Linked DNA regions of Homo sapiens. The protein of the gene in region 3 purifies or fractionates together with the protein of the main gene of each other region. This does not show direct contact. Each region holds a gene or a part of one and is shown on either strand. Other genes may lie near its edges.

Region 1 (7,024 bases), 1.6 Mb from region 3:
TGCTTGGCAAGCAGTGGGTCTCCCAGGCTCCAGAACAATGCGCTCTCCCTGCTTGGTGAGGGTGCCTGCAGCGCCTGCTAGCCAGGGCTTGCCTTGGCACAGTCACCCTTGCAGGTGATGGGGCGTCATGGAGGATCATGGGCCATATCCAAATGAAAGCTCTCTGCTCCTGCATCCTGCCCAGGGCTCGGCACTAACTCCAATCTCAGGCTACTTTGGCATGTGGGTAACCTTGCCCAGGAGGCCTCTGTGAAGTCAGTCTATGCCTTTAGTCCTCTGGAGTCACAGTTACACCAGTATTGAAACAGATTCTGTGGTTTTGCTTTTCTTTGAAATGATTTCCTCAGGTTTTCCATTTGCTCAGCTTTTCTAAATGCTTCATTCCCTGAAATCTTGTTCCAGGAAACATTAAGGGCTAGTGACTCTTTATATTTTCTACATTGAAGGCCACTTCAACAAGCTGATGAAAGATAACTGCTTTTCTCAAAATATCACATTGCTTTTCATAAAGTTCACTGAAACCAGCTCAGAGACCCCTGCTCCAGAGCAATGACCTTGTACAAGGTCAGTGTTTCAAGGAATCATGTCCCACATCCCCACTACCAAGCTTAAAGCAACTTCTCTCCAAACTGCCAGTGAATCCTTTCATCCTTCAATGAACAAAGGGTCAACTTGAAGAATATGCTACTTTTGACAAATTCTGTTAATATTCAATAAATTCTAAGTAATTAAAAAAAATTTTGGGGAGTGGCAGGTTCCAGAGAATACCTTTTCTTCTTAGCAGAAAGTTCCCCTTCCTCTGAATGCCACTGTAACAGATGGACAGAGCATTGAGCCTTAAAGATAAACTGACTCAGGCAAATTGCCAAGAGAAGCAAGACCCAGAACCTCTCCTAAGGTTCTCTGCAAAAGAGCCCAGATTGGTCTCAACAGCTGAAAGACCGCAACAGATCCCAACTGCCCTCATGATCCAGCCCCATGAGATGGTGCTACATCCAGTCTACAGTGCAAAGCCAGGTAAAGCCAGGACTCCACCAGAAATTAGGCACTTTCTATGTGCCAGACACTGTGCTAAGAGTTACACCCATACCATCTTCCATAACCCACACAACCTCTCTAGGAGGAAGTGGATTCTATCCCCATTTCAAAGCCTAAGCTTCTACCCACTAGGTTATCCTGCTCAAGGGTGTGGAAAGAAGTGCTCCTCTACCAGTCTGGGCCAGGAGCTCAGCTCAGCTCAGCTAGGCCAAGAGGCAGTTCCTGCCTGCTACCTTCGTCCAGCCCAGCCTAGTGGTGTGGCCACTTGCCCTGGCATCAGGCTTACTATCTAGATGCAGCTGCGAAGAAGTAAACAGGACAATTAGTGTTTATAGTAAGGGATTACTCATAAAGGTTTGCCCAGATTGGCCGGGTGTGGTGGCTCACGCCTGTAATCCCAGCACTTCGGAGGCCGAGGTGGGCGGATTACCTGAGGTCAGGAGTTCGAGACCAGCCTGACCAACATCCTTGAAACCCCGTCTCTACTAAAAACTACAAAAATTAGCCAGGCACGGTGGCATGCACCTATAGTCCCAACTACTCAGGAGGCTGAGGCAGGAGAATCGCTTGAACCTGGGAGGTGGAGGTTGCAGTGCGCCGAGATTGCATGACTGCACTCCAGCCTGAGCGAGAGAGCGAGACTCTGTCAAAAAAAAAAAAAAAAAAAATTTTCACCCAGATTAAACATTCTAAGGAAGAGCAGAGAAAAATAAATGAACCAAACAAAGATTTAAAAAGTCAATGGCTAACCTTGCTAAAAACAGTTTGCATTTGGTATTTTGCCAAGAGTGAACTTTGTTCTCAAGTGGGTTTATTTTTACAACCTCCAAGTGCTAAATTTAACCTTGTTGGCTGCACTTGCTGCTGGATTCGGAGGGCAGATGCTGCTTGTTCTCAAATGGCACTTGGGTTGTGTGGAGGCTCTGCATAGCCGCTGTACTTAAATGCCAGAAATAGATTTTTAAGGGGTTTGTGCTGATAACTGCCATTTGGAACTTGTGGGTACACGCATCATGCTTACTCACTGGATTTTTTTTTTTTTTTTTTTTTTTTAGATGGAGTCTCGCTCTGTCACCCAGGCTGAAGTGCAGTGGCACGATCTCAGCAGACTGCAACCTCCGCCTCCCGGGTTCAAGAGATTCTCCTGCCTCAGCCTCCCAAGTAGCTGGAATTACAGGTGCGCACCACCACACCCAGCTAATTTTTGTATTTTTAGTAGAGAAGGGGTTTCGCCATGTTGGCCAGGTTGGTCTCGAACTCCGGACCTCAGGTGATCCATCCTCCTTGGCCTCCCAAAGTGCTGGGATTACAGGCATGAGCCACCACACCTGGCCACTCACTGGATTTTTATTTATACCTGGAGAGTGCCGAAGCTCTGAACTAGGCCTCATGGGGATGGGGACAAAAGCTGAGAAACTACCTCTGGTGCAATCCTTACCATGAGCTCTTTGTATAATTCCAGCATCTTACTGCCACAGAGGAAGATGTGGGGCAGGCGGGTGTTTGAAGAATGTGAAATGCAGATTTTCATCCAGTTCTTGCAGAAAGCAACAAAGTCAAAGCCCTCCCAGGACCCAGACAATGGGGATTTTCAGGACATACACTGGCTTTCACCTGATTTGGATCCATGTATATACTGCCTTTTTATTGAGACAGGATCTCGCTCTGTGGCCCAGGCTGGAGTGCAGTGGAGTGATCACAGCTCACTGCAGCCTTGATCTCCCAGGCTCGACCTCCTGAGTAGCTGAAACCACAGGCATGTGCTGCCACACCTGGCTTATTTTTATACTTTTTCTAGAGATGGGGTTCCCAGGCTGGTCTCAAACTCCTGGACTCAAGTGATCCTCCTGCCTCGGCCTCCCAAAGTGCTAGGACTATAGGCATGAGCTACCATGCCTGGCCTATATACTGCCTTTTAATATGAGGCCTTTATCCTGCTCTAAAATTCTTTCCTGATTTTTGATTCTTGTAAAATCTAGTTTAGCAATGGGGTAGAGTATTTCCTGAATCCTCAGTGTTTTTCAATAAATTGGAATTTCCTCTTCCTGTTTAATTTCCTCTTATATCCCAGAGTCATTGCTCACCAACTTCCTAATGCACCTTGAGAGAACATTAGGACTTTGCCGTACAGAAATAGGGGGCAGAGACCAGGTCCCTAAGGGTGAGCTAGGACACTAACCCTGCTGTTGTTATTCACAATCCTCAGCATTTTCATTGTTTTCTACTCCTGAGAATCCTCTCTTCAAAAGACATTTGTTGAGCACTTGTTCTGAAGCAAGGACTGTGCCAGAACCCTGGGACACAAAATTAGTAAGACCAAGTTCTTATTCCCAGACAGTCCATAGTCTTGCAGGGGAGACTGACATATATCCCTGGAACTCTAACACTGTGTGATTGGTACTATGTTAGCAGGCTGAACAAAGTGCTTTAAGAACACAGAGGAAGGAGAGCTTAACTTGAGGGCGGGGTTGGGAGTGTGTGATGGTCAATGAGGGCTTAGCAGCACTGTGACTGAAGAGCTAATTTTATCAGACTCCATTAGGTATTTAATGATACTCAGTAATAAGGCTTTAGAAATGAGTCAGAATTTGCTTTTTAAACATGAGCCAAAACTTCAGTTAAAAGGGTACCTCCTGAAAAATAAAAAAGAAAATAAAAATAATCAAAACCAAGTTTTAGAAGACACAGTCACTAACGCGGTATGTGTGTGTAGAATTCAAGTGGGACCAAAGGTGAAGCTGTTGGCTGAGACGGGGCTACCCCTGCTGCAGACACTCCTAGTAACACTTGCTGGAGCTGTAAGCCAGTGGCAGATGCTATCATCCCCACTGTCTCCAGAGAGGGAAATAGGGGGGAAGGCCTGCCACACCCAAAGGGGCAGACCCAAGGGGTCGCTTTTGTTCTGTGTGGCCACAACCAGCTGGAGGTGAGGGTAGGGGACACCTCATTCCATACCAGAAACCTCTAAACCTTTGTTCTGTTTCAAAAAGTTAGGCTGGCTCGATCAGATTTCCCTCTAGGGAGTGTGGAATTGGGAAACTGTGGACCAAATCAGCGAGCACCAAGAACTTACAGACGTGTGTGCTGCAGAAAGGGGCACTGACTGGTGAGACTGGGGAATTTGAGAGAGTGATAAGCAGGGTGGCAACCACTGTAAACCATGGCAAACAAGGTTATGCAAAAGGGAAGCTGGAAGAAAGAAAGGAAGGCAGCTGGTGGGGAGAGGAGAGGGGGCAGATTGGCAGAGAGAGGTAGAGACTCAAAGAGAGACAGACATACAGACAGGTGACTAGTGCCGCCTAAATTCCTAAGATTTCCAAGTCCTGGCCACATGTATCCTGTCAATAAATTTCCCCTACTTTTTTATAGTATCCTGAATGGCCTTTGTCCTCTGACTCTGTTCACATAAACATGCGTAGCCTCAAACAAGAAGAGAGGAGGGATCAGGAGGCTGGGGGTGCCTCCTGCTGGGAACCACAGCCACCAGCTAATGCCCCTTTTACAGTATCTTACTTTGTTGTTTCTCCTTCCAACAACTAGTCTGGATATAATCAATGTAATCCTTCTCTATTGTTTTCTCCAAGTCATGCAGAGAAGCTCCTCTGTAGGCCTTGTCAAAGTTTTTATCCACAAAGTAAGGCACCTGCAGGTTCTGAGTTTCTCTAGAAATGGTGTAGCCCAAGGTCCTGAAACAAGGAGAGAGAGGCTCATGTGAGCTCATAATATTTGGCAATATTACTCTTAGCACTGCCCTCACAGATATCATCATCATCATCTGCTCATAGAGCAGAGGCAGATATCATTTTCTAATATACCCAACACTTCTTATTTCCCTAGCAAAGTTGTAAGTATAACATCATCATAATTGTATTATGTAAGCAAGTTCATACTATGAATTCAGCTTCAGCATAGTTTATTCTCTTAAAGGACTCACCTCTCTTATACTGCTCTCTGTGCTAAAAGTAGAATGCTGAATGCTTAAAACAAACAATTTTTACGTTGTGTAGGATCTAGTATGGTACCTGACAGAGTAGGCTATTATAAATGCTGGTTGAATGAACTGATTATGTTATATAGCAAATTATTTACAAAAAAAACAGATAGCTCACACCAACCTAGAAGCAATATTTTGGACATGATAAAAAGTACTTCGCACATAGCTGCTAACTGAGAACTGCAAGAAACTCAGACAAAAGATTTCAATGATGCTTTAGAGCTAACTCTCTGTGGGTCCAAGACATCCAAAGGTATCTGGTGCTTAGCAACATTAATAAGAGTACTGAGCTGACTAATTCTAACCATAAGGAAACATAGAAGGGACCTCAAACTCAAGTTAAAACAATGTGACAGAAATGGTTTTCTTCAAACTGGACAAATTCTACATTAAAGGGGCTATATTTTATTTGGCCTTTTTCCGGCCCTCTCCTTTGATCCTCTCTAATTAGAGTAAGAGCTGAAGCCATGACTGCTCTCCCCTCACTCTAAGGTTTTGGGGGAGCTTACAGAGCAGGTCCGTGCTTACCCCGCTGGCCTCACAAGAAAGAAAGCTAAAGTGCCATATGGAAAAACATGAGAAGCTGGGAAACAGAGGGAATCAGGCCAGTGTGGCCTGATGGCAAAAACCTCTCTATGAAGGCTAGGTGCAGTGGCTCATGACGGTAATCCCAGCACTTTGGGAGGCCAAGAAAGGTGGAGGTCAGGCGTTCGAGACCAGCCCAGCCAACATGGTGAAACCCAGTCTCTACTAAAAAATACAAAAATTAGCCAGGTGTGGTGGCACATGCTTATAATCCCAGCTACTCAGGAGGCTGAGGCATGAGAATCGCTTGAACCTGGGAGAAGGGGATTACAGTGAGCCAAGATTGCACCACTGCACTTCAGCCTGGGAGCCTGGGTGACAGAGCAAGACTGCTTCGAAAACAAAAACAATAAAAAGAAACCTCTCTTTCAGCCTCAGCTTCGCTCTCTGTAAAAGGAAAATACTAGCCGGGCGCGATGGCTCATGCCTGTAATCCCAGCACTTTGGGAGGCCAAGGTGGGCAGATCACCTGAGGTTAGGAGTTTGAGACCAGCCTGGCCAACATAGTGAAACCCTGTCTCTACTAAAATATAAAAATTATCCGGGTGTGGTGGTGCGTGCCGCCTGTAATTCCAGCTACTCAGGAGGCTGAGGCACATGAATTCCTTGAACCAGGGATGTGGAGGTTGAAGTGAGCCCAGATTGCACCACTGCACTCCAGCCCAGGCGACAGAGTGAGACTCTGTCTCAAAAAACAAAAACAAACAAAAAAGGAAATACTGACCTGGATTGACCTGGAATGATGGTCTTGTCTACAGTGATCACTGACAAAGACTCTTCCTGTTATATATTGTCTAATAAATTCTACTTTTAAAAGGTTTTTTTCCCACTAAATTATAATAATGAATAATAATTTATTATTCATTATTAACAAAAAAGATAATCTAGTGATTCTCAAACTTCAGTGTGGACCAGAATAATCTAGAGGGTTTTTTAAAACTCAGACTTCTGGTCCTACCCCCAGAGCCTCTAATTCAATGGATATGGAGGGGCCCTAGAATCTGCCTTTCTAACATGTTGCCTGTTGATGCTGACGATGGCTGGTCTGGGGACCAAACTTTGGGAACTGAATCAACTGAAAGAATTAATTGAAGAAATTTTTAAAAATCCTATCAGAGTTTATAATCTATACGCAAAAAGCATTACAAGGAATTTCTCTATTTTCAACAAAAACAAAAAAATTGAAAATAATCACTTGATCCCCATTATTAATACTATGCTCCGAGACCCACAGGGTCCAGCAATCCTATCAACAGCTTAACAGAGTCTTTCTAACTCTACCATGGTGTGATAATGAGTTCATCTAAACCTTAAATTCTACTGATCCTTCAAAAACCAGTTACTGCTGTTCTGCAGCTGACCAGATGATGTCACTATAGAACAAGACAATCTATTTCCCGAGGCACA
Region 2 (7,355 bases), on a different chromosome or scaffold from region 3:
CCTGGGTTCAAGCAATCCTCCTGCCTCAGCCTCTCAAGAAGCTGGGATTACAGGTGTGTACCACTGTTCCTGGCACAGACAAAATACTAGAATAACAGAATTCAACAAGGTTTTTGGTACAAGATTGCTGTACAAAAATCCACAGTGTTGCTATACCCCAATAATAGCCAAATAGAAAAAAAAAGATGTGAAAAACAAAACTATAAAACTATGAAAATGAAAATGAAAATCTTAGTGACCTCAGGAGAGGGAAGGATTTCTTAAGAAAGCTACAAGTCAGCTATCATAACAACAGATTGATAAATTTGACTACATTGAAATTAAAATCTAGAGAACAAATCACCGTAAACAAAGACGACAAGTGTCAACCTGGGAGAAGGTATTTATAACATATACCAAGCGTTAACTTAAAAAAGCCCAACAATGGGCTGGGTGCGGTGGCTCATGCCTGTAATCCCAGCACTTTGGGAGGCTGAGGCAGAAGGATAGCTTGAGCCTAGGAGTTTGAGACCAGCCCGGGCAACAAAGCGAGACTCTGTCTCTCTCTCTCTTTTAAAAATGTATATATTAAAAAGCCCCACAATGAATAAATTTAGAAAAGAAGGGGAGACTTTATGGCCTGCAAGGTGGCCATCCTGCAGGCTGGGAAGCGTGCCTCCAGAAACAGGCGCTTTGAAGGAGGAGGGCTTGGAGTGTAGTTCAGGCTGAACAGGTTGGCTAAACCTACATTTTCACCAGGTTACAGGAAGAGCTATGAATATTCATGAAAGTGGTCCTGACACATGCGTATTGAACAAAAACTCATGTAACATATGACCCATATTCACTTTGGGATGGAGACTTAACTTTTTTGTTGTTGTTGTTCAGACGGAGTCTTGCTCTGTCACCCAGGCTGGACTGCAACGATGTGATCTCAGCTCACTGTAACCTCCACTTCCCGGTTTCAAGCGATACTCCTGCCTCAGCCTCCTGAGTAGCTGGGATTACAGGAACCTGCCCCCACGCCTGGCTAATTTTCGTATTTTTAGTAGAGATGGGGTTTCCCCATGTTGGCCAGGCTGGTCTCAAGCTCCTGACCTCGTGATCTTCCCACCTGGGCCTCCCAAAGTGCTGGGATTACAGGCGTGAGCCACCACACCCAGCCAAGACTTAACATTTAAATGTATTACGAGCCCTATACGTCAAAAGGTCTTTCAGGACATGAAGCCATGCAAATGTGCGACCTCTGTAGACCAGCCAGAACCAGTCCATGGCCAGTGGTCTTCTTACCTGGAGAAAGTTACTGAAATCAACAAAAAGTTGTCCAATGAAAGCTGTAGCTATGGCTGGTGGAACGGGGACTGGGGGTCAGTAAGTCAGCATCTCGTGGAGCTGCACATTATTTTAATATTGTTTATCTTTAGGCCAGTACTTGTTTAGCTGCTAGAGAAGAATCTTGTGGCAGTTAGAACACAGTTTATTCTTTAAGTATAGGGGTGTGGGACTAAAACCTTGCCTGGAATGGCTTTAGGTCTTTTTTATAATTTGGCATCTTATTGCCAGAGTCTGTTCTGTCAGTCTTATCATCTCTGTTTTAACATTAATGCTGGCCAGTTGTTGTGTTAAACTACAAAAGGGAGGGAGTATAACAAGGTGTGTCTAACCTGTCCCATCGTGGTCTAGAACTCAGTTTTAAGGTTTTCTAGGATCCCCTTGGCCACAAGGGGGCCTATTCTGTTGGTGGCGGACTTAGGAGTTTAGTTTTACTTTATACAGGTGAATGAATAGAGCAGGCTATCTAATGACGTACACATCATTTGTGAAAGAAAACTCCATAGCAAACTTTATAAAAGGTAAGAGTGGACAGTTCACAGAAGAGGAAATAAGGTTTCATAAGTATGGAAGAATGCACCACTTTGTTAGGGAAATGTAAATTGCAATTTTCACAGCGGTAAAAATGGTAAGAGTCTGACCATATCTTGTGTTGGAGAGAATGTGGAACAAAGAGAACTCATCAATGCTAGTGAGGGTGTAAACTGATAAAATAGTACATACATTATTTAAGACATTCTTGAGGCTGGGTGCGGTGGCTCACGCCTGTAATCTCAACAGTTTGGGAGGCAGAGGCGGGCGGACTGCTTGAATTCAGAAGTTTTGAGACCAGCCTGGGCAACATGGTGAAATCCTGTCTCTACAAAAAATACAAAAATTAGTCGGGTGTGGTGGTGGGTTCCCGTAGTCTCAGCTATTGTGGGGAGAGGCATGAGGATCGCTTAAACCTGGGAGGTCAAGCTGCAGTGAGCTGAGATGGCTCCACTGCAATCCAGCCTAGGGGACAAAGTGAGCCCCTGTCTCAAAAAAAAAAAAAAAAAAAAAAAGAGGGAGAGAGAGAGAGAAATTGAGATTCATTCAAGGAAATACCATGGGTAGATCCTTAATATCCAATAAGAAAAATGATTTGGAGAACATTAAAGTTTACATACATTAAAAAAACCCAAATGACACTAAATGCATGTGTCTATAAACATGTTTAAGCACCGTAAAACTAAAAATAAAAGTGGACTAGAATTACACTTTTATTTTTATAAAATAAAATTTTATACCCATAAAATTCATGGTAGAAGTGGCCTACGCCAAGGGAGGAAAATGAAGCAGGGAGGAAAGAGGAATTCAATTCTGTAGTATTTAATTTCTTATGAAAAATCTGGGACAAAAATGAAAAATGTTAAATTTTTAAATTCTTGGTGATAGGTCACAAATGTTTGTTTCATAATTACTTGCACTTTTTGAATAAAAATAAAATCTTTTGGAAATTAAAAAAATTGGCGATTTGTCATGGTGATTTTCTTAAAAGACTAAGGTGTCTAGTGGGATACAGAAGACTCGATGATTTTATTTTATTTTAGGTTTTTTTTTTTTTTTTTTTTTTGAGACGCAGTCTCGCAATGTCGACCAGGCTGGTGTGCAGTGGTGCGATCTCCGCTCGCTGCAACCTCTGCCTCCCGCGTTCATGCGATTCTCCTGCCTCAGCCTCCCGAGTAGCTGGGATTACAGCTACTTGCCCGCCACCACGCCTGGCTAACTTTTTGTATTTTTAGTGGAGACAGGGTTTCACTATGTTGGCCAGGCTGGTCTCGAACTCCTGACCTCGTGATCCGCCCGCCTCGGCCTCCCAAAGTGCTGGGATTACAGGCGTGAGCCACCGCGCCCGGCCTTATTTTAGTTTTTTATGTCAATTTTTGAATTTGTAATTGGGTGAGAATTAAAGTGTTATAAATTTCACCTTAAGTGAAAATTTATTAGTTTTCTAATGACAAAAGTAGTTACATCTGACGTAAGGGGATTTAATTATCTTTTTCTGGGCTTGCGTCCCGGAACGCTGCTGCATTATGTAATCTGTAGTAATATACCCACGAGCAGTTTGGAGGGTTCTGGGAAGCACATTTGTTTTGCTTACCTACCATGGGAAAGATTCCACGTGGTCCTAGAAGCATACGTATTCGTCGGTTACAGTATTTTAAATATTCACTGGCCGCTGAAATTTAAAATGGATGAAAAAGAAATTCTCTTAAGTAGCGTTCTTGAAACTGCTTTATCAAACTCAGTTCATATTTTCAGTTGGAGTTCGTGATGTATGTGATTTTCCTTTAAATAAAACCCGAATCTTTAGTAATACAAATATTGGGAACTTCGATTACTGTAGGTCTTAGGGTAGACTCGCTTGGACTTTGACTAAATACTATGCTTTAGAAATTTATCTTTAGGAGATAAATTTGGGGGGTTTATCTTTTTATATTTGCTTTGTTTCAATTTATTTAAATAAAAGTAGTCTTTCTAGAAGTATGTTTTATAGTACCACTTACCTCGGTTACTGTCCCAGTTAAGCAGTTTTCACGAATGTGGAAAAATAGTAGTGTTTTTCTTTCATACACGCGTATATGAAAAATTTTTACATTGATAGAGAATTATTCGTAAAAATTAAAGTAAATTTACTGTTAGTCTCTAATTTTGTTCTGAGATAGCCACGCTGTGGCATTAAGAAGGATAATCAAGGAATAAGCCATAATGTTCAGAAAGGGGCTTTACTTTTTATTTTTAATATTATTGATAAACTTTGTTTAGTCGAATTGATGTCTGCGTGTCTTCCCCCGCCTTCCCCATAAAACAGCGGGACAGAAAGTCCTGAAAACTCCAAAAGGGAAATATTTACTCAGAGGTCTATTCAAATTTGCTTAGTCTCTGACGTTTTCCTGTGTCGTACAAATCCCTCGTGCGGCAAAAGTAGTTTGTCTTTACTAGGCCACCGTCTCGTCAGCGTTACGGAGTATTTTGTCCGCCTGCCGCCGCCGTCCCAGATATTAATCACGGAGTTCCAGGGAGAAGGAACTTGTGAAATGGGGGAGCCGGCTGGGGTTGCCGGCACCATGGAGTCACCTTTTAGCCCGGGACTCTTTCACAGGCTGGATGAAGATTGGGGTGAGTGGGATCTGAGAATGTACCAGGGTGGCTCGGGTTCGCGTCTAAAGGTTTCTTCCTCCCTACTTCCGCCCACTCGTGGTGACAGGTGTGGACCAACCCTGCCTGGGGAGTGAGGCCCCTCGTCACTCCTGTTCGTGCCCCTGGAAGAGTCTGGGAGTATCGTTCGGCTTCTGTCCTGGCCACAGGGAGAGTAGAATATTGTCTAACTGGAGTTAACTGTCGTTTTTCACTATTCCCACTGGGGAAGTACCGGGTGATCTTTTTGTGTGGCTAACACTGGACGTCTTTAGGAGGTTTAGAGCAAAATGGCTGGGACCGCCAAAAAGGCTACAAGCTATTTCCTGAGTGTGAAATGTGGGCGGTGAGCACAATGGAGTGGGTTTTTGTGTGTTTGGTGTATATGAGAGAATGTGGTTATATACAAGAAATTCTAATCTTACAGCTTTTACTATTGGTTTAAGCCTGATGTCCGTCTTGGCAGAAAAGCAAAACACCCAAGCACCTGACCTCGGGTCCCTGCTTAGCTACACCTAATACTTATGGTGTAATCCTGACTGCTCTCCAGATACAGCTCTTAATTTTCTTGTTAATGGATATTTTGTTTGGTTTTGGTGGTCAGGAAGGGTGGAATGGGATGAAGTGGAAATGAGAATGAAGAAACTTTGTTATCTAAGTATTTAGAGGAGACTTTTATTCTCCTCTTGATTGCAAGATATAATAGTAATATTGTTCTTAGGTTCCAATATGAATTTGGGATTGTGTAGGTTCCCAAATGGGCCCGCTAGTGAGCCTACACCACTCATCAGCCTTGGAACTGGGGGGAACCCAGTTTATCTTTCTCCCTTGGATCAGCATTCTCAATAGCAGGAGTGGAAGGAATCTCAACTTTTTATTGAACAAAGTCATTTAATTGTTTCAAGGACAGATGTTCTCTAAAACTATATTCTATTGGAGATTTATTTTAATCCTTGGGTAGATTTTTTAAGAGTTGCTGGAAAACTTAAGATTTTTTATTCCCATTTTCCCAAGCCAAATGCATTAGTGACAGTAACCATTTATTTAGCTCTTTGTGTCAGGGACCCTGTTAAACTCTTGACATGAAGTATTTTGTTTAATCCTACCAACAGTCCAATGAGGTACTGTTTATTTTAGAGATGAGGAAACTGAGGCTAACAGAATTTGTGCTCAGATTCTTAGAGCTAGTTAGTGGCAGAAGAAGGATCAGACCAGGTTTTTCTACCTCCAAAGTCTGTACCCCTAGCATCTATTCTATAATGCTTTCCTAACTCATGTCTACAGATTTTATTCTTCCTAAGATCCCTGGTTATTAATAAGACTACTTGAATATATTGGGTAGTTATGATTTATTTTGTCAGCTAGTCAGCTATTATATTTTCATGACATTTCTTTTCTTTACCTCTTTTTTTGAGATGGAGTTTCGCTTTTGTTGCCCAGGCTAGAGTGTAATGGCGCAATCTTGGCTCACCGCAACCTCCGCCACTCGGGTTTGAGCGATTCTCCTGCCTCAGCCTCCCGAGTAGCTGGGATTACAGGCATGCACCACCACGCCCGGCTAATTTTGTATTTTTAGTAGAGACGAGGTTTCTCCATGTTGGTTAGGCTGGTCTGGAGCTCTGGACCTCAGGTGATCCGCCCACCTCGGCCTCCCAAAGTGCTGGGATTACGGGTGTGAGCCACTGTGCCCGGCCAGTGACATTTCTTAAAGTATAACTGTGGGACACTTCCTGGTAGCATAATTTTATGTCGTCTTCTGATACCCAGGCTGCATTTTCCAGACTTATCTGATCACTTGACTTAATGTTCTCTAACAGAGCATTCAGTTCTTTGTAGTCAGTTCACCGACTCACTTCTATCGGGTATCCTGCCCTGTCCCTCCCTGAATGTGCCCATTTCCATTGTTTTCCAGGTTTCCCTTTTCAAACTGTTAACAGTCTTCTCTTCTTTGAAGACTTTAATTTAATTCCTTAGGTGTTCAGTAAGTAGGATAGATTTTGTTGGCAATAGAGTGAAACACTACTGTCTGATAGTGTTTCGTTCTGTGACAGTTGCTGTTTTGGATGTTCAAGTACTTCACTGATTTACTTGATTTTGTTGTTGTTGTTGTTGTTTCTTTTAGAGACAGGGTCTTGCTCTGTCGCCCAGGCTGGAGTGCGGTGATGCAATCATAGTTCACTGTGACCTGGAACTCCTGGGCTCAAGTGATCCTTCCATCTGAGCCTCCTGAGTCGCTAGGACTACAGGTGCACACCGCTACCATGCCTGGTTAATTTTTAATTTTTGAATTTTTTGTAGAGACAGGGGTCTTGCTGTGTTGCCCAGACTGGTCTCCAACTGGCCTCAGTCATCCTGCCTCAACCTCCCAGGTGATGGGATTACAGGCTCAAGCCACTGTGTCTAGCCTTGATTTTTTTTTAATATTAGACACTATCTAGTTAAAATTTAAAAATCAGATTATGTAATTAGTATGTCCTGTGATTTTAACAACTCTAAATAATTTAAATAAAGTGATTAACTCAGAACAGCCTGTGAGGGATGTGCTTTCCTTTTTCTTTTTAACTTAGGTAATGAAATTTAGAGCAAGAGTCTTCAAACATTTTCTGTAAAGGTTCAGATAGTAAATATTTTAGGCTTTGTGATTACATGGTCACTGTTGCAACTACTCAAGTCTGCTGTGATAGTGCAGGAGCAGCCAGAGACAGCATAAACAAGTGAGCATGGCTGTGTTTCTATAAAGCTTTATAGACACTGAAATTTGAATTTCACATAATTATTTTAAATAATAAGCCTACTTTTTTAGTATAATTATAGATTTACACAATAATTGAGCAGATAGTACAAAGAGTCCACATACTTCCCCTTCATCCCCAGCTTCTCCT
Region 3 (7,024 bases):
ATCAGCCAACACTATATCATAGATTGCAGAAAAGTAGTCCAGAAAGAAAAAAGAGTAAGAAGATTAGGCCAGGCGCGGTGGCTCACGCCTGTAATCCCAACACTTTGGGAGACCGAGGCAGGCGGATTACGAGGTCAGGAGATTGAGACAATCCTGGCTAACACGGTGAAACCCCGTCTTTACTAAAAACACAAAAAATTAGCCAGGCTTGGTGGCACACGCCTGTAGTCTCAGCTACTCAGGAGGCTGAGGCAGGAGAATCACTTGAACCCAGGAGGCAGAGGTTGCTGTGAGCCGATATCGTGCCACTGGACTCCAGCCTGGGGGACAGAGCGAGACTCTGTCTCAAAAAAAAAAGATTAGACATTTATTAACTATATGTCAAGCACTATGCTCAGTTCTTTTTTTCTCCTTTAGTTCTCATGGTAACTCAATAAAATAGGTGTTATTATTATTACTACACCCAATTTACAGAAAGGGTAATTAAGAAAATATGAATTCAGGCAGTTTGTCTATGCTCACCCAGCAAGTAAGCTTGGGATTAGAATTCAACTCAAATCTGACTCTAAATCATAATCTTAATCTTTATGCCATATTCCCTCCAAGCAGTGCAGAACATATATTGAGTCCTAAAAACCTAAAAGTACCAGAAGGACAGGGAGAAGGCAGAGAATCCCTTTAACTTTACACCACTGATGCAGAGGTATGTATTGAAAAGTATGATTAGGTTGCCATGGAGTAGTTGGAAGATGTAAGCTCTATCCAGCACAGTCCATGAAGACTGTGACTCATGCATCAGCAGCCAGGCACAGTTCTGGATAAAATGGGTTATACAAGAGGGGCTGGGACAGTAAGAAAGGGAACAAGGGAGATCCCCTTCTCTATCTCTGTAAAAAAGATAGGTTCTCAACATTTTTTGAATCTGAAAGAGGGACTTGGCCAGATGTATGAAATATCAATACATGGTTCCTATTCCACATTTGCCTAGGAATACACACCAACCAGCATCACCAATGGGAGGGAGAATGTATTCAAAGTTAGTTTGTGGCTTACCAGGTCGACCTACAATGCCTCCATAAGAGCAAGAAAAACTCTGAAATAAAGGCAAGGTAGAAAGTCATGATTTCACGTGGCTTCTTTGGGAAGTTCTCACCTTCCCAGATGCCTCCACATCCTGCAACACTTGGCAGTCTAAAACCACTTCCTCCTCCATCATTTCTTCACTCCATCGTTGGCACTGAGGGTACAGATTTGTCAATGAACTATTTTATGTTTTTCCCCTTGCAATCTGGCAATATTAGCTCTCTAATGAATTGCTTCAACTCGTATATTTTTTGGACAAATGTGACTTTTAGTTGAATTGTGCAACATCCATAAATAGCAAATCCTGGCTGATTAGAATCAACGAATGCCCTTAAAGTTGCCAGTAAAAATGGGCCCTTAGCTGCATGTTACTTAATAATTTGAAAGGCATCTGATTATTTTTGGGAAAAAACCTTTTACACACACATTCTGTCATCTGTTATGTATGTAGATATGTATTTGAATTTGAATGGATTATTGCAAGCCAGCCATGTTATGAATATAAGTGCTAGATATACTTGGATTTGAAACTAAACACATCTGGGTTTGAATCCTACCCTCTGCCACTTACAAGCTACGTGAACTTGGGTACATTTCTTAATCTCTCTGCCTCTCCAGTTTCTCATATGTAGAATAGATGTAATAAATCCCTTGCAAGCTTGACTTAAGGAATAAATGAGACCACACATACAATGTACTTGGCACAGTGTCTAGGCATATTATGGCTTAATAATTAGTAACTACTATTATCATCATGATGTTCTATTAATAGAGGATTAGAGTAGACACAATTTGTGGTCTCTACCAACACTTAATCTTCCCTTTCTGAAAACTGCCACAGCGATGGGCCTCCAAAGCCATATTTCTATTACATGACCCTGCTTTAGTGATAGGGCAAGAATAAGGATACCAAGCAAATGTGAGTTTAAGCAATTTTCCTATACTCACCCAGCCATTAGGTTTTTTACACAACTTAGCAGGTTCTCTTTCCTGAAAGTTTGGATTAGGAAATAGTCCCTATTATCCCTCTAAACTAAGAAATTGTGAGGCGGTCATGTTTGGCAACATGCATGCCAAGGCACTAAAAGTCAGTCTGCAGAATGTTGTTGATGTGCAGAGAGAAGCAGATTGACTTTGACTTGAACTCAAAACAATGCCTTGGTTCCGATAATTTTCCACTTCCATGAGAAACCATCTTCCTTCCTTCCTTCCTTTTTCTTTCTTTCCTTCTTTTTCTCTTTCTTTCCTTACTACTTTGGGTGGGTTTCCATAGTCTTCAACCAAAAGATCTTTGTTAACAGTGTCATCTCTGTGCATAAGGCCACCAGATCTTCTCTGCATGGCTTGGATGACCTAAGCATTTGAAAGGTACCTGATTTAAACAAACAAACAAACCCCAAAAACTTCATACACACACACACACATGCACACATGCGTGCACACACACTTTCCTTGTTATCCTTTTTCAACTCCTGAAGAGCATTAGGTATAAAATCAAAATAATCATATATGTAAGGAAATCATGTATGTATGGAAAAAAGGGAATAACAAAAATATAAAAGAAAAAGAGCCATCAACATTCCTGATCTTACAAAAGTAGGTCATCTGATCACTTTCCAGAAACCAAGAAAGAATGGAGAGACCCCAGCTCTTTACCTGGTGTTGCACTGGATACTGTTGGCCACTGCTGATCAGGCCCTCCTGGACCAGCCCGTAGAATGCCAGCCTCCTCTAGGTGCACAGAGCTGAATAAACACACAGACCCAGATAACGGTTAGATCATAAATTCTTTCCCATCTCTTCTTCCACCCTCAGAAATTGCTTACAACTATGAAGCCAGGGCTGCAGCTAACACATTCTGCTCATGCTTGAACTGAAGCAATTACTGCTGAGCAGTCACCCTGCATAAACTGCAGAAGCATTGCTGACTTACTTATTGCCTGCTATACTATTCCAGGAACACACATGTTCTATCTTTATGGCAATTCTGTTTTTTATTAACGCCATGTGGCGCTCACTAAATCTAACAGGAAGCCCATCAGAGGACTAAGCCATTTTAACATCTCGATACTGAAGCAGATGAGGAGGGCTTGTTCTCAAAAGTTCCAAGCCTCTCTTGCAGGTTCTCTTGTTCCTAGGTTCTCTACTCTAAAGAAGAAAACACACTAAAATATTTTCTGATAATTGGAGTATTGTTCCAATTTGGCTATCTAATTAATTCTTAACCTTATTTTCTATTTTACTCTTTCTATATCTTTTATGCATAGATGACCCACCCTATATTTCCTGAGACTAGAGAAACTTGATCACCACCACTCACAGATCCCCGCTCAGAAGAGATTAATTCAGCATAAAACATTGCTGGGAGTGAGATACAAACTGGGAGACCTTTAGAGGCAAGCAGAGATAGAACATAAACTGTTCAAGGGAAAAGAGAACATGGTGCAGTATTCATTTATGTATGTCTAATACTAACTCATATTAATCTCTCAAATATTTGTTGGATGAATGAATGAATGAATGAATGAATGATGGAAGGGAGGAAGGAAGAAAGGAAGGAAGAAATAAGTGGGATCCTAAGAGAAAATGTCCAAGAAAACCCTCATCAAAATTAGAGGAACATTTTGTTTTATTTTATTTATTTTTGAGACAAAGCCTCACTCTGTCACTCAGGCTGGAGTACAGTGGCACGATCTCAGCTCACTGCAACCTCTGCCTCCCAGGTTCAAGCAATTCTCCTGCCTCAGCCTCCCAAGTAGCTGGGACTACAGGCACCCGCCACCATGCCTGGCTCATTTTTGTATTTTTAGTAGAGACAGGTTTTCACCATATTGACCAGGCTGGTCTTGAACTCCTGACCTCAAGTGATCCACCTGCCTCACCCTCCCAAAGTGCTGGGATTACAGGCATGAGCCACTACACCTAGACTAGAGGACCCTTTTAAACTAGACATTTGCTTATCTTGAAAGTTAAATTTCTAAAATAAAATTTAGACTACTGACTAAAGGGGTTATATGAGGCAACAGAGCAGGCAAACTTGAACTATTAGAGGGAAGGCAACATATAAGTTCAATGTTTTCTCACTCTTTGACTTCAAACAACATATCCAGTAGAAATTCACTCATTAAACTCTGACCTTTTACTATTCTTCCCCTTGTCTACACTCTAGAATTATCTGTTTTTTTTCCCCAAATATTAACAGCCTTCAAGTGTTCCTGGATCCTACTAGCAAATTGTGTGGGCTCAGTCAGATTCATGAAGGTGTAACTATCCTGGAGCCAGCTCAGCTCAAAGCAGAATTTTTTAAAGAATAGTTACATGATGTCCAAGACTGGAAAGACCGAGAACACCCAAGCACACATACGAAAAAGATTAGTATTATTTAGGTTCACAACTCATTTAATATGTTCAATGTATTACAATGCAAAAAAGAAATGGCATTTTAATTTCAATTTTTATTTTATTTCTTACCCTACTCAAATCTCATAATATCTTAATTGAAACCCGAATAGGAGCACATTTGGCTTTTTTTTTTCAATTTGAAAATGGGATAAGGAAGTTATGTTATTTTATTCATTTATTTATTCTTCTGAGACAGAGTCTCGCACTGTCGCCAGGCTGGAGTGCAGTGGCTCGATCTTGGCTCACTGCAACTTCCGCCTCCCGGGTTCAAGCGATTCTCCTGCCTCAGCCTCCCTAGTAGCTGGAACTACAGGCACATGCCATCACGCCCAGCTAATTTTTGTATTTTTAGTAGAGACAGGGTTTCACCGTGTTGTCCAGGATGGTCTCGATCTCTTGACCTCATGATCTGCCCACCTCGGCCTCCCAAAGTGCTGGGATTACAGGTGTGAGCCACCGCGCCCAGTCCAGGAAGTTATGTTTTAATGTTTTATTTCAAATGTAGTTTTTAAGGCACAACTCATAGCTTTGGTACTTTTCAAGAGTTGGTACTGTAAACCATGCTTTTACCCATTGCATGTCTCCACCAACAGCTCAGATGCAGGCAAAAGCACAAGTTGGTCTCTAATAAATATAAAGAATTTCTTCTGATACCTAATATTCTGGTATATGCATGAATGTTTCTGGCCTAAAATTATGACCCAGGTTCCAATGTGACATCTTACCAAGCCAACTACTAATCTTCAGCCCTTCACTGATTGCTTCTGAATCAGAAATAGCACCCAATGTAATGATTTCTGCTCATTTGTAATGCTTGAGAGTATGTTAATTTATTTCAATCTAATGCATTTTAATGGGCTAAAACTAATTTCACATTAACTCTACACATACTTTGTAGGCTTTCTCTTTACGAACTGATCTAAGTTTGGTGAATATTCACTTGATAGTTGCCCAGATATTTTGAGGGGCTTAAGTTTGAAGATTATTTCTTCTTTAAAATTAAATCCTTTTGATAGTTGTGATCATTTGTTTCTTGGTCCTTCCCATTTGGTTTCCAAAGACATTCGCAAATAATGAATCTTTTATTTGGCCCCATGGCATGGATACTGGATCACCTCCAGAAATAATGGTAGTTAATCAATTACTGTCAGAGAGACAAAGTAGAGAAAGCAAAATTATATTTAATCTGAGTCTTAGACTAATACCGTTACTCTAGGTTAATTTAAAGTAAGCTAGATTTGGAGCCCTTTACATGGCTCATCTTCTGAAGAACCATGTCATTGATGACAATAAGATAGCAACAGATGGGAAAGATGAGGAGGCTCTAATAGGTGTGAACACAAACAACAATAGCAATCAATTATTGAGGGTAATAGGATGTAATAGCCAATGTGAGATTAAAAAAAAAACAAGGTAGACAACATGTATGTATACATTGCACAATGTACCCAAGTCTCAAAGCATGAGTATTAATTACAGTTTTTAAAGGAGGAAAAGAAAGCATAGGTAGAGAGGGATGAAGGAGGTTGAAATTACTTCCCTGTAGAAATTTTGATGGGAGAAAATACATAGCAGCCTGTTTCTGTGATTTTACAGAGGACTCTTATATGCCAGCACTTGATAAGCATCTGGCACTGACCATTTGCGATCTTTCAAGGAATAAACATGGGGACAAAATAATTGCATTTTCCTGGCAAAGTACCTAAAGCTTTTTAGTTTTGACAGCTGCTTCTGGCCTATGGAGATGCAGTTTATCTGAGCCATACCAAGTTAAGGTTACTTCTGAGTGAATGAGGAGGGAAATACATACCTGTGCATGCCTGCTCTCAGGGAGGCAGAGTAACGCCAGTCAGGGTTGGGCTGTCGTGGCTGCAAAATCACAAAGAGAGTTTTCTGTTAAAATGACAAGACAATGTTCTCCCAGGAATGCTGCTAATTGATTAGTTACTCCCTTAAATATTTCCAGGCATCTAAAAAAGTATTGAATGAGCCATTTCATGTGTAACTCTATGATGATATCTACATATATAGCACTTTAGAAGAAAATTAGTTCATCAGGGTCCTCACACAGATTAGATACCCTGGAAGACCAGATTTAATAATCTTGTAAAGGCCACCTTTGGCTTTGCCTTGCCCAATACATGTCTGTGTTCTTAAAACACTACGGGAAGAACAGTCTGCTTTGAGAAAGGAAAAGCTTTCACTGCTTTTGCCCTCAAGTGCCCCATTAAGGGAACATTCCCAATTCAGTATTACAGCTATAACAGGGCACATGGCTACACAAGTTCTGCTGGCCTGGCTGGACTGCAGAGGACTGCAATCTGCTGCTGGCTTTGCAGACTGCAGCATATTTGACCCAGGGCGGATGTGCCCAGTCATAACACCAGCAACTGATAACAGTCTCTTTTCTGATTGAAGAGGGATACTAGGGAGAGGAAAACAAACTATTGCAGAGTTTGACCTTGTTTTGCTAGCTAATCCTTTTCATAAACTTGTACTTGTTCCTGCTCCTTCCTGAGTGCTTTCCCTCCTCACTGAA
Region 4 (7,354 bases), on a different chromosome or scaffold from region 3:
GAGTGCAGTGGTTTGATCTCAGCTTACTACAACCTCTGCCACCTGGGTTCAAGGGATTCTCCTACCTCAGCGTCCCGAGTAGTTAGGATTTTTTTCTTGTATTTTTAGTAGAGATTGGGTTTCACCATGTTGGCTGGTCTGGTCTCGAACTCCTGACCTCAAGTGTTATCTGCCCAACTCGGCCTCCCTAAGTGCTGGGATTACCGGCATGAGCTACCATGCCCGGCCCACTCAGCATGTTTTTGAGATTCATGTTTGCAATTTTTTTCATTCAGAAGTATTTTGAGGACTTGTCTTCATATATTTATCTTCAGTTTTTCATTTTTTACACTATTCCAGAATATGAATATACCACTACCTATTTTTTAGAAACAAGGTCTTGCTCTTGCCCATGCTGGAGTGCATCAGTGCAATCATAGCTCACTGCAGTCTGTAACTCCTGGGCTCACATGATCTTCTGGCCTCAGCCTCCCAAAGTGCTAGGACTACAGGTATGAGCCACTGCACTCAGCCTATATAATAATTGAAAAGTGGACATTTGAATTAAGTTTCTTCTTCAAATATTATGAACAATGCCCCTATAAATAATCTTGCACATGTTTCTTGGTACACATGAGCAAAACTTAATTTCTCTATGGTAGGAGAGAAACTGTTGGACCATGGATTAGGTACATGTGCAATCTTACCAGACAATGACCAGTTATTTTCCAAAGTGGTTTTACTAATTTATACTTTCACTAGCAATGGTTGAGAATTTAGAAAAAATTTTTAAGCAAAAGGAATATTGCTCTGAACTAGACCAAGGGACCCCTGAATAGCCAAAGTATTGATTGGTTCATGATGTGCTAGAAACTAACCCTATGTCTTTCTCATGAGGCAGGCAGGACTGTTAAGGTTTCAAGCCAGGACATCCTCCTAGAGCCTTTTCATGTACTATGTCAGCAAAGAACAAAGAGGGGAAGGTTAATAGCACTTGTTAATGAAAGTACAGTGCTCTAGGAGTTGAGGGAGTCATGAGCTCTAGCTCTACAACTAACCTGTTTTTCATTCAGCAACAAATTACAGAGTACCTGCTATGTGTAGGCCCTGGCACTAACCTGTTTTTCATTCAACAAGAAATTACTGAGTACCTACTATGTGTAGGTCCTGGCTTTATAGTCGTGAACAAAACTGGCATGGTGCCTGCATTCTTGAAGCTTACGGTCTAGCGGAAGAGAGAGGCATGTTTTAAACAAATGGACAAACATAAAAATTATGGTAAATGCTATGAAGGAAAAATCAGGGTACCATGTGAAAATAAAGAGAGGGGGAACCTACTTTAAAATAGGTAATAAGCATTCCTTTTTTGGAAGTAACATTTAAGCTAAGATCAAAAGAATGAATGAGCTAGCCAATTGAAGACCATTCCAGATCACAGGAGCAAAAAGGGTGGAAAATTCAGCCAGTGGAGCTGGGTCCCAGTGATCTGGGGAGAGCCACACAAAAGGGGGTTGGTAAGGGAAGCAGGTGTCTTTTACTTAGAAGCGAAAGACTAAAGAAGCAGAATGAGAGTGGCAGTGGGATAGCAATAATTCTGATTCACAAATGTTGGGTTTGAGATGTCTACTACAAATCTAAGTGGAAATGTCAGGTAATCAGTTGGCAATATATGTAAGGAACTCAGGAAAGAGTTCTAGGATAGAGATAAAATTTCATCTGTAGCTAAAGCCAAGGAAAGGAAGACAGTCACCTAAGGAGAAAGTACAGACAAAGATAAAAGACCACTGGGTTATTCACTTCCTATACGTCTTCTGGTAAACTGCCTCCTTTTCTTGGGCTTCTTGGTAACATGAATGGTGGAATTAGATGATTTATGGAGCTCCTCTTAAGTCTAAAATTATGTAAAGGTAACCCTTCTCATTGCTCTTGGGTTAACCTTAATGATCTCAACCCCATCCTAATCAAACAAAAAACACTGGGTAGTTTAAGATGAGCTGGGAAATATTTTACTACAAACAGTTGGGAACTTCGACCCAAGCCCTTCATTCTGCAGATACAAAAACAGAAGTTCCAGGATGAGCCACATGCTTGCCACAGCACTGAGCAGGTAAGCCAAGTTCCAAAGCGCACAGTGCCTGCTCAACTTAGTAAGTACAAGGACAAGTGCACGCAAAGAAACATGAGAATTAAAGTCATCACTAAAGGCAGAGGAAATCTCATTCTTGACCCTAAAAGATCTGGAGAAGTATGTTTAACTTGTGCCCTAAGGACCTACCTTGGGGGCATTGTGTCCCACAGGGACATGAGGTCCCCTTCGAGATTTCATTGCAAAGCGCATGATTTGCCTCTTCACAAAAATAAATAGCAGTACAAACACCTGTCCAAAAAGATGTAAAAATCCTTTAATAAAAAGTCAGTTTTGTTTTGTTTTTTTTTTAAAAAAGCATGCCTTCATTCCAAATCCCCAGATTCCGGCTCTCAGGAATGTTTCAGGGTAAAACTTGGGGCAAAGCAAGGCCGTTATGATGGGGGTGGATCTAAGAAGCCAGCAGCAGGGAGGCGTGGGGTCTGTGCTCTAGCGTTAAAGGGAGGGTTCTAGACTAACGAGGGCGGGTCGGCCCGACTAAGTGACTTAAACTCCCACCTACTCCTGGAATAAGGAGTCAAAGCCCGGATAGGCGCAGGTGAGTGGGTGGAGAATGCAGACGGGGTACAGCTCAAAAGGAGGGTCTCTACTGGGTAAGATGCGACAGCAGGAATGGGGTGGGGTAATCTCCTCACCAGGCTCCCGTAGGCCATCACCAGCACGACATTCACCCCGGAGAGCCAGTTACTGCCGGACGCCATGGCCTCCCTACCTCGCGCAGAATTGTTCGGGTTTACCCCGCTGTCCTGGCTGGTCAGCCCAGGCTCCGCCGAAGCGACGGCGCCTGGGTCCCCTGGAGCTCCCCGGCCATTTCCTTACGGGGGAAGACCAAGCCAGACCCGGCCTGAAAACATGGCGGACAGGCAGGAGAGCTGGGAAAGGAGAACGACGCCTTCCAGCTTCCCCCTGACACGTGACTCAGGCAGGCAATGGCACCCAGGAGCGTCGAGCGCTCAGACGCGGAACTACGACAGTAAGAGGAAGCGGCGGCCATCCGTGCGTCACGTGGTGGAGGCAGGGCCGCCGTGAAGGAGGCGGGGTGGACTCGCGGAGCCGGAAAGAGGTGTCTCGTGGCGAGGCGGCACGCGCACGCTTGCGTGCGCGCCCCTTTTAGCGTCACGCGCTGAGGGACGCAGGAAGGCAAGTGGGCGGGGGAAGGCGCGAGAGCGAGCGCGAGAGGGAAAAGGAGGGAGGGGGTGGGGAAGAGGGAATCTTATATCACGTGACAGGGGCGGCGCGGCCCGGGGTGTCAGTGTGGAGGAGACTGAGGTAAAGTTGGGAGCGCAGCGGCGTTGGCGGCGGCGGCGGCGGCAGCGGCAGCGCGGCGGGGCCGGGTATTGTCCGCGGCCCCTTTAAATCCGCGATCCCCCTTTTACCCTCCCTCTTTTCTCCCCTGCCCCCGCCGTATCCCCTCCCTCGGTAGGCCCCCCCACACCGTGTGTTCCCCCACTGTACACCCCCCCCCGAGTCATGCGAGCCCTGGCGCCCCCCACCTCGAGTCGGCCCCCGGAGGTTTTGTTTATGGTTGGGTTCGCGGCCTAGTGGGCCGCGCCAGAGCCGGGGCCTCGATTTGGGAGCGTGGCCGGGGCGGGGCTTGGAGCAGCCGTAGGAAGGGGGGGCCATGCGGCTAGAGCCTGAGAGGGGAGAGCGAGAAAGAGCGCGAGCGAGCGAGGCCTGGGCCTTGCCTGAGGTAGGGCTCTCTCTTCACCCCGGCCGGTGCCTGCGGAGGAGAGGGCCTCCTCCCTTTCCACCCACTGCGGGCCTCCTCTGATCCGGATCCGGCCTGGTTTGGGGGTGGCGTGGGGGAGGGAGGGCGATGGGGTGGAGCTCCCCCAAACTCCCCCATGTGGCCCTCAGTTTGGTGTGCGAAGGATTAATTTGTTCCGGCTGGGAGGTAGGGAGGAGATTGGCCCCGTGGGCTCTCGATGTGGCGCTGAGGGGGGTGAGCCTCCCATCCTCCACCCGTGGGCTTGCGTCCCCTCTCCGTTTCCAGGCTCTTTGTCAGCTCCTCTTATTACCCTCCCTTCTTTCTCACCAACCCAGTTCTTGGAATATGTTTTTGCTGCTGTCTTTAGCTTCCTGTTTATACTGTAGTTTGGGTACCCCAAACAATTGTGTTATTTGGGAAGCTGGACATGGAGGCCCCCATAGGGTGTATTTACGCTTAAGGGACGTCACTAGAGCACTGGGGTATTTGTTCACTCTTCTCATAATGGTACAGGAATGCCCAGTTTCTTCAAACCCTTAACCTTGTGGACAGCCCTTAAATTGCTTTGCAAACTGATGTCACAAACTGGAGACTGCTCCTTTTCCACCATTCTTGAAATGTAGCCACCTCTGGTGTAGGATGTTGTGGAAAGAAAAACACCACAGTAACAGGCGTTTTTGTTATTATTGTTAACGTTTTTGCCTTTGACTCTCCCTGATTATTAAATGGAGAAATCCTTTTTTTTTGTCTTCTCTCCCATCCTACCTTCCTCCGCCGCATATCCTGTTTTGGGGATACCTGATGTGACTTGCTGGGAGGTGATGGACATTACTAGTAACCAGCGTTTCTAGAGAATTAAAACATTTTGGCTGTGTATCAGTTGATAAAACTGCTTTGAGATCTGTCTCCATTGTACTTAAAGATTAGACTATCCCAATGATTACAGAGAATTAAAACATTTTGGCTGTGTATCAGTTGATAAAACTGCTTTGAGATCTGACACCATTGTCCTTAAAGATTAGACTATCTCAATGATTGTTTCCTTTGTGAATGGGAAATATTGCTGGCACATAAACTAGTGATGAAAGGCCTAAAAATGTCCTGTTTTGTTTTTCATCTTTAAAGCTCCTCCTTGCTATGTCCTAACTGGGAAGTACTCTTACTAACTAGATATCAAGGTGGTGGGGAAGGGGATGCAGGGGCCATTTCAACAAAGCATCTACAGAAATTAGTTGTTCTGTTAGAGGTAGCAAATTTTACCCAACTCAGTCTAGCTTCAGTTTCTGAATTGTTTCTTAAATTAGATTGTAAGCTCCCTGAGGGCAGCTACTAAGTCATACTGCTTTTGTATTTTCCTGAAGTATTGGACACATAGTAGATTCTCAATAAATATTTGTTATTTAGTTTTTTCAGTGAAATTTCTCTGGCTATTTTTTTAAGTAGCTAGTTTTCAAAAAAGAGTCAAGGGCACTCCTGTGTTGAAACCTCTGTTTACTCTCGCACGATTTCCTTGGTCTCCAATACTTCTCACCCTACTTCCTTTAAATCTTTTTATTTTCTAAGAAAGAGCAAGTAAGTAACAAGATTCTTCATCTCCAGTGTGATAGCTGGGAATGGGTCTGCTTGCTACTAATTCTGTGCCCTCAAGTGATCCATTCCAGATCACTTACTTTTGACCTGTTGCTCAGTGTTGTCACTACTAGGTGGTAAAAATTTTCTTAGTCACATTTCGAAGCACTTGTAAGAGGGAAATGTTACTAGCAAGAGTGATTAGGAGAATTTTTTTCTTTCTTGGTTAATTATATCTTTCAAGATGACTTTTTAATATGTTTACATCTGACTGGTACAGTATATGCAATAGTGTATAGCTAGTCATGCAGTTTATACCTGCAATATAACTTATCCTCACAAATAGATATCACATGTGGAGTAGAAAACAGTCAATATTTGTAAGTTACAGTAGTGGGTTGGAAATGACTATGCCATATTAGAAACTTCATCTTAGAGCCAATTTTAAAACAAAATAGTTTTCCTCTCGTCTTTATATATATACGTATATATGTGTATATGTAGTCTTGTTGATTTGGATTCGGGGTACTTGGTTAAACATTTTTTTTTTTTGTAAAGTTGAAACGACTATAATGCTAACCTGGGAAAATGGGCTACTGTGTAGCAAATAATCCTTTCTAGCTTGAAATACTTATGGGCTTTTGTGTGCCAATATGTGTAGGGGGAAGAGGTAATGGGTTAAAAATTACCTGAGAAGCTACCTTAAAAAAATCTTTCTTGATACAAAGACCTATGCAACCTATTGACGCAACTTGGTGAAGAATTTATGCACAGAAAAAGTCAGCTTTCTCTGTGACATCCAAGAAAGTCAGATGAAATTCACTTCCCTAATAGTTAATCCTTGCATATTTCTTTAGAAGTCCTTCCTCCCACTCAAATCCAGTAATATCTCTGGGCAGTCTAGAATTACGTTGTATAAGGTTTCATTAACAAGAAAAATTAAATATAGAGCAGAAAAGTATAAACTTACCCTCTTTGGAAGGGAATAAATGCAGAGTAACCTATTATTTTGAACACTCTATCATATGATTAATGTTTTCTTTTTTACTAAATGCAGCAGCTGAGATTGTATTATAAAACAAAGTATGAACTAAAGGAACTTGAATTCAGTAGAATCCTTCCTTGTTAGAAGTCTTGTAACAAAAACTATATTCTGGTTTGGGGAAGGCCCTGTGTGTTCTGTGTCTCTTTAAAGACTCAACTAAGTCATCTTGCCAGCATTAAGGTCTCAAGTTTAAAATGATTTCTTAGAAGCACTTTCTTCCAAATAAAACTTTGTGCTAGATGCTTTTGGTTTGAGACAAATTTGAGATTCCCTGTATATTAAGGTGAGTGGTGGAGGGTAATTGCCATTTTGGTTTCTTGAAAATGTGGACTAGGAGACCAAGAGAAGCACCTGTAAAAGCAGTGTGTTGGAATTATTTTCCAGAGAACAGAGATTCTGGACAAAGTCATTGGGGCTAATACGTACCCTGTTGAAGGCTGTGGTTTAAAAAAACAAAAAACCCCCACAAACACAAAACAAACCCATAGCATACTGAGAGAGATGAAACTTGAGGGACAAAGAAGAGTCTAGACTTGAACTTGTCCTTTCCCAAGCAATGGAGGTCACATGCAGCTTACATAAAAAAGGTTGTAAGGCAGGTAAGGCTGTTTTCTTAGGTGATTGAATACAGTATTTAAAATTATTTCTCTGGAGTGTAGACTAATCTCCTTCCTGGAAGGTTTTTGTTTCCAGACTTTACTGATTATCTTTCCTTCTGTCAAAGGTACTTCAGATACTTGCATCTATGTAAAAGGCTTTTGATTATTAGTTAAATGTAAAGTCTGCTTATGGGGGACTAGTAACCAAACTGCTGTAACTTCTTAAAAAAATCCATCACTTACACATGCTTTATACATTTCTTGTTACATAAAAATGGATTAACAGCCATAGCTCCTTAAGGAATTTA

Evidence for each region.
Region 1: the proteins of PCDHAC1 (region 3) and DNAJC18 purify together in Homo sapiens (affinity purification with mass spectrometry; 2 studies listed by BioGRID and IntAct, with this or other methods). This does not show direct contact.
Region 2: the proteins of PCDHAC1 (region 3) and ATF6 purify together in Homo sapiens (affinity purification with mass spectrometry; 2 studies listed by BioGRID and IntAct, with this or other methods). This does not show direct contact.
Region 4: the proteins of PCDHAC1 (region 3) and LTAP1 purify together in Homo sapiens (affinity purification with mass spectrometry; 2 studies listed by BioGRID and IntAct, with this or other methods). This does not show direct contact.

The regions. Positions count from the first base shown.
Region 1 is NC_000005.10:139,415,502-139,422,525, forward strand, and holds part of DNAJC18 (dnaJ homolog subfamily C member 18), read right to left. Parts: intron 4,725-7,024; coding exon 4,552-4,724; intron 3,092-4,551; exon of another isoform or gene 2,501-3,091; intron 2,216-2,500; exon of another isoform or gene 2,094-2,215; intron 1-2,093.
Region 2 is NC_000001.11:161,761,988-161,769,342, forward strand, and holds the start of ATF6 (cyclic AMP-dependent transcription factor ATF-6 alpha), read left to right. Parts: upstream 1-4,332; 5' UTR 4,333-4,373; coding exon 4,374-4,455; intron 4,456-4,461; exon of another isoform or gene 4,462-4,819; intron 4,820-7,040; exon of another isoform or gene 7,041-7,355.
Region 3 is NC_000005.10:140,978,279-140,985,302, reverse strand, and holds part of PCDHAC1 (protocadherin alpha-C1 isoform 1 precursor), read right to left. Parts: intron 6,355-7,024; coding exon 6,296-6,354; intron 2,829-6,295; coding exon 2,740-2,828; intron 1-2,739. Other genes in the region: PCDHAC2 (protocadherin alpha-C2 isoform 1 precursor), read right to left, coding at 2,740-2,828, 6,296-6,354; PCDHA13 (protocadherin alpha-13 isoform 1 precursor), read right to left, coding at 2,740-2,828, 6,296-6,354; PCDHA12 (protocadherin alpha-12 isoform 1 precursor), read right to left, coding at 2,740-2,828, 6,296-6,354; PCDHA11 (protocadherin alpha-11 isoform 1 precursor), read right to left, coding at 2,740-2,828, 6,296-6,354; PCDHA10 (protocadherin alpha-10 isoform 1 precursor), read right to left, coding at 2,740-2,828, 6,296-6,354; PCDHA9 (protocadherin alpha-9 isoform 1 precursor), read right to left, coding at 2,740-2,828, 6,296-6,354; PCDHA8 (protocadherin alpha-8 isoform 1 precursor), read right to left, coding at 2,740-2,828, 6,296-6,354; PCDHA7 (protocadherin alpha-7 isoform 1 precursor), read right to left, coding at 2,740-2,828, 6,296-6,354; PCDHA6 (protocadherin alpha-6 isoform 1 precursor), read right to left, coding at 2,740-2,828, 6,296-6,354; PCDHA5 (protocadherin alpha-5 isoform 1 precursor), read right to left, coding at 2,740-2,828, 6,296-6,354; and 4 more. UniProt on the Homo sapiens protein: Potential calcium-dependent cell-adhesion protein. May be involved in the establishment and maintenance of specific neuronal connections in the brain.
Region 4 is NC_000001.11:154,217,582-154,224,935, forward strand, and holds the start of LTAP1 (protein C1orf43), read right to left. Parts: upstream 3,010-7,354; 5' UTR 2,827-3,009; coding exon 2,761-2,826; intron 2,664-2,760; exon of another isoform or gene 2,591-2,663; intron 2,357-2,590; coding exon 2,255-2,356; intron 1-2,254. UniProt on the Homo sapiens protein: General regulator of phagocytosis. Required to uptake Gram negative bacterium by macrophages.